Linked DNA regions of Homo sapiens: region 1 is linked to region 2. The links come from fine-mapping of genetic effects on gene expression. Tissue or cell type: whole blood. Region 2 holds a variant in brackets; the other region holds the start of a gene. All regions are shown on one strand. Distances are from middle to middle.

The links. PIP is the estimated chance that this variant, and not a neighbour inherited with it, causes the effect.
Region 1: it holds the start of AKR1B1, and the variant in region 2 is fine-mapped to the expression of AKR1B1 in whole blood (TOPMed, PIP above 0.99).

The regions. Positions count from the first base shown.
Region 1 is chr7:134,457,996-134,460,679 of GRCh38, forward strand. AKR1B1 (aldo-keto reductase family 1 member B) reads right to left here and starts at 1,105. Exons shown (of 10, transcript NM_001628.4): 1 at 1,002-1,105. The coding sequence starts at 1,067. RefSeq lists a silencer at 715-904.
Region 2 is chr7:134,564,544-134,567,198 of GRCh38, forward strand. AKR1B15 (aldo-keto reductase family 1 member B15) reads left to right here. Exons shown (of 12, transcript NM_001080538.3): 3 at 55-226. The coding sequence starts at 77. Among named protein-coding and RNA genes, the nearest start is that of AKR1B15, 17 kb to the left of the region's middle. The variant C/T (reference allele first, on the strand shown) is at 1,025.

The sequences.
Region 1 (2,684 bases), 110 kb before region 2:
AACAAACAAGCAAACAACAAAAACAGAAACTGAGAAACCCAGGTTATGGCTGTGGAATATAATATGCAATACTTAGAAGGTTAAAAATTCTAGGTTTTGCCTCAGCTCCCATACCACCACCTTTGTTGCTCAATTTTCAGATAATCAGGCTCAGGCTATTATTTTTGGTTTTTCATATCATATTATCATTTTTCATATCCTATGATGTTTCATGTCCTATTGTCATTCTCATCCGGCTAGGCACTTCTCGGGGACGCTGTGTGGTGTTGAGGTTTTACAGGGAAAATGCTAACCTTGGCGCCTCCTGAATTATCAACTAGCTACGGGGTGCCCAGATTTTTCTCCCGAGTTCCAGACCCAGGGCACCCCGAGGCGGCGCCTGGCCGAGGAGCTCCGCACTGCGCCTTGTTAACAGCTGGGTCCGGGCAAACTCGCGCCACCTAATTCTCTGCCCTCTACCGGCTTGAGATGCTTATTCCTCAGGGAGGGCAAGAATCGAAACGATTGAGACCAACTATTTACAAGTGAGGCAACCGGGCTACAGGTGCCTCGAGGGAAAGGAGGCTGGGTCTGCGCTCCCACACCTTGCCGACGGCTCCACGTCCCTGTCTGCGCCCGAGGTCCACCGGTCTGTGAAGCCCACTTTCCCCGCCTCCCTCTCGCGTTGTGCCGCTTGGGGCGCCCGCTAGGACCCAAAATGCGGACTGGTGGGCCGCCCATCAAGGGTTGCCCGCGGTAGGGCGGGGGCTCCCGTGAGCTGCTCCCAAACCCCACTCGCAGGATGCTGCCCTGACGCCCAGGGCCAACCCGGGGAGCCAAGGCCCCCGGTCTCTGCAAGGCCGACCCCAGCCCGCTGGGGACCCTGCAAGCCCGCGCGTGGCTCCCAGCACGCCGGGCGTCCGCGGGGCGAGCTGCTCAGGGTCACTCGGGGTCCCTCGCCAATACAGGCCGCGCGGAGAGTGTGAGGCGAGCCCCGGGCCCGCGCCCCCACGAGCACCTACCTTCCAGGTACCCAACCCCAGGATGGGCATCTTGGCGCCGTTGTTGAGCAGGAGACGGCTTGCCATGGCTGCTGCGCTCCCCAGACCCCCGCCCAGTACGGTGCGGCCTTGGCCGCGGCGCGTACCTTTAAATAGCCCGTGAGGTCGGCAGAAAGGGCGCCTGCGGTTGGCGCGCCGCTGCGCGAAGGAGCCTTCTGATTGGTTGCGCTGGGGGTGCCGCGGCGGCCTTCCCCAAGGGTCGGCGGGGATGCTTCTTCCGCCTGGTCCTAGTGGCAGCGGATTCTTTCCGCCCCCAACGCTCGCCCGCGCCCCGCGTGGCAGAAAGGAGTTCCTCAGCTGCTGTATCTGGTGGGAAAGCGAATGCTTTAGCGAAAATAACAGGCATCCCATAAATACATAGACTAGAAATAAGTTTTGGTTTCATTAAGAGCCCAGAAGAATGCCTTTGTTGTCCAACCCCAGTTTGATGCTCTTTGGGAATCTGACGAATACCTTGTCCTTAATCTATGTGAATCATACTGACTACACATATAGTTTACCGCACTTTGTTCTTAGACAAAGGTGCATGCCAGAAAAATGGCTTGCAATCCTTTTGCAAAGCACCTTCACAAAATATGGGTTTGCCCAGACTTTTTGTAGCCTTCTAGATCTCTCTTTGCACCCCACTCTAGGTGTTAGCTGTGTCTGTGCATACTAGGTGTGGTTCAGCAAGCCTTCCACCAAAAGCCAGCATCCTTTGATGTTCTTGAGGTTAGAAAGCCTTGATGGGCTTGATCCAGAACTCTCAGAAGAATTTGGAAAGTAAGGCTGTCCATTCAGAATCAGTAAGACAAATTTCATCAGTCTTTGGAAAGTGAGACTCTATCAAAGCAGTAAGTTCCAGTACAGTAACTTATCAAAACTCTCTAGAGGAAGAAAAGTGAACAGACAGAAAACCACAGAAGAAAAAGTTGACTCTAATATTGTAGCTTCCAGTATTTCAAATTAGAAGGTACAAAATAGTAAATTGATCACCCTAATTGGCAGGTAGAAACACACATTTTTCCAAGATAGCCTAAGAAAAGTCACTTGAAGATCCTTGAAGACAATTTTGGTTTCTTTCCAACAACCTCTCTTCATGATACTCTACCTCACCCCAACTGCTCTTTCTGCTCCATCACCCTCCGATCTTTCCCCTAATTATGCAAGATTGGGAACTCCATCTGCCTGGTAGTGACTCAAGCACCAGGTCTCTCTAAACTCCATGCCGGTGATTTTCCATTTGGTGCTTTCTTTAAAAGTGCTCCCTCCTGGAAAAATTTATACAGAACAGACTAGCCCAGATATTTTTCCATGTAACTTTTGTAAAAATTGTTGCTATTGGGCAAATTCATTTGTCCCCAAGTAATAGAATTTGAACTTGAGCCTAAAGCTGGGAACTTGCTTTGTGTAAAACAGCAAGTTCCTTCCTCCATGAGAGTCCTCTTGACTTGGAGGTTGCTCTGCCAATTGAACCTCCTGGGTCCAAATCCAAAGAGCTAATCTCTTGTGAAAATGATACACCTTGAGTGGCCAGGTTGGTACACACAGAAGGGTCGTCTGTTAGGGACATGGACTCAATATCAGAGGCTTTGTTGTTGGTTTGATAATAATTGAGTATACAGCTTGATTGCATGAAGTTATAACTGTGTCTAAAGCTGGAGT
Region 2 (2,655 bases):
ACTCACCTTTGGGCCCTGTATTTTTAACCTCCTTGTCAAATTTGTTTCCTCTAGGATCGAGGCCATCAAGCTACAGATGGTCTTACAAATGGAACCCCAAGTGAACTCAACTAACAACTTCCACCAAGGACCCCTGGACCAACCCGTTGGCCCTTTGACTGGCCTAAAGAGTTCCCTTCTGAAGGACACTACAAGTGCAGGGCCCCTTCTTCGCCCCTATCCAGCAGTAAGTGGCTAGAGAGGTCATCACCCAATTCCCAACAGCAGTTGTGGTGTCCTGTTTAGATGGGGGATTGAGAGGTGAAGCCAGCTGGACTTCCTGGGTCAAGTGGGGACTTGGAGAACTTTTCTGTCTAGCTAGAGGATTGTAAATGCACCAATCAGTGCTCTGTGTCTAGCTAAAGGATTGTAAATGCACCAATCAGCACTCTGTAAAAACGCAGCAATCAGCACTCTGTAACTAGCTAAAGGGTTGTAAATGCACCAATCAGCACTCTGTAAAATGGAACAATCTGCAGGATGTGGGCAAATAATGGAATAAAAGCTGGCCACCCCAGTCAGCAGCAGCAGGGAACCGCTCAGATACCCTTCCACACCGTGGAAACTTTGTTCTTACCCTCTTGACGAAAAATCTTGCTGCTGCTCACTCTTTGGGTCCACACCACCTTTAAGAGCTACAACGATCACCACGACAGTCTGCGGCTTCATTCTTGAAGTCAGCGACACCACAAACCCACCAGAAGGGAGAAACTCCAGACACATCTGAAGGAACAAACTCCAGACACAACATCTTTAACAGCTGTAACACACACTGTGAAGGTCCACGGCTTCATTCTTGAAGCCAGCGAGACCACGAACCCTCTGGAAGGAACCAACTCTGGACACAGCAGGACGTGAGACTTCTACCTGCTCACTCAGAATCATTTCCGCACCAACCATGGCCACGTTTGTGGAGCTCAGTACAAAAGCCAAGATGCCCATTGTGGGCCTGGGCACTTGGAGGGTAAATATGCAAATCTTTGCA[C/T]AACTTTCTTCTCTGGAGGGCTGTTTGGGTGTTTTCTCTTTCTACATTCAGCCAGAAAAGCCTGGAGGTCGGGTAGGGGTTTGGAGAGGTGAATTTCAGTCCTGGAGCTGGGACTCGGGTTGCTTTCTTTTCTCAAAGCTGATTCAAGCTGCAATGCTGCAAGACTGGCTTTCCCAGCAGTGATGAGAACTCCTCTAGCAAGTATCAAATTTCAAGCAGAGTTGGACTTAAAATTGTTTTCCAGGGCAGTTTCTCTCTCTGGCTCTAGGACACTTAATTGGGCACAAGGTTTCCCCAGAGTCTTGGCTGTGGGTTTGTTGTGGGCTGGGTGGTTGTGGAGAGGATGCAGAGCCAGAAGTCCCTGGCACCACTTTGCAGATCACCATGTGGGACTTGGGCTAGCAGCATCCCTATGACCTGGGAGCTTGTTAGACATGCAGAACTGGCTGGGTGTGGTGGCTCATGCCTGTAATCCCAGCACTTTGGGAGATCCAGACGAGAGGACTGCTTAAGCCCAGGAGTTGGAGACCAGACTGGGCAACATAGCAAGACCCAATTTCTACAAATAATCAATAAATTAGCTGTGCATGGTGGCATGCAGCTGTAGTCCCAGCCACTTGGGAGGCTGAGGTGGAGATTGAGTGTTGAGCCTGAGAGGTCAAGGCTGCAGTGAGCAGTGATTGTGCCACTGCACTCCAGTCTGGGCAACAGAGTGAGATCCCGTGTAAGAGAAAGAAAGAAAGAGAAAAAATGCAGAGTCTCAGGCTTCACCCAGGCTACCTAACGGGCATCTGCACTTTAACAAGTTCCCTAGGTGGTTCCTGTACACATTGAAATCTGCAACATGCTGGGACTGCAGAGAGCCTGGGCTGGGAGTCGTGAGCTCCACCCGGCTGTTTTTATGACAGCTGGCAAAACACGCTAAGGCACATTGAGGACTCAGTGAGGCAGGTTCCTGGGCCTCTGTTAGGCTAAGTTTGAAGTTGTTCCATCACTGCCTCCCTCTGCCTTCTTTGCCATTTCCATCCATGATAGCACTACCCTAACTAGTGATGAGAAGCAGTCTTTGGAGTTCCTCTTCTCTCCTGTCCCTCATGGCTAATTTCCCTGCTCAGACTTCTGCCTCTGGCTCTCTTTCCTTCTGTGCACACTGACTTTTTTCCCTCTCCTGTGCCGAGCTGGAGGGTAGGACCCTCTGCTGCAGCACTGGGTCATTCTCAGGATAAAGTCTTGGTCTATCTGGGCGAACAGATCACTTCCAGCTCGATTCATACATACTGACTCTTGCTTGAATAGCAAGATTTGCCCCAAATCAGAGCTTTAATCCTATATAAATGGAACAAATAATCACTTCCAGATCTCCAGGGAATCTGCTCACCCTTCATAAGTTTACTAGACAGTTTCAGAATTTTGGAATTGAATGTAAGAATTATGAAGGGAGCTGCCTTCAACACGTGGGGATGATAGATTAAAGGATTATGAACTTAGCAGTGGAGGTGAAGAAGGGTGTAGTATAGCGGTTGGGGTCACAGGGCTGCTTCTAGATGCCAGGTGGCAGCCCGTTTCTTGCCCAGGTGGTAGGGTAGTTGTGCATCTCTGTTTTGTGTACTTTTCAATGTTTGTTACCTCAC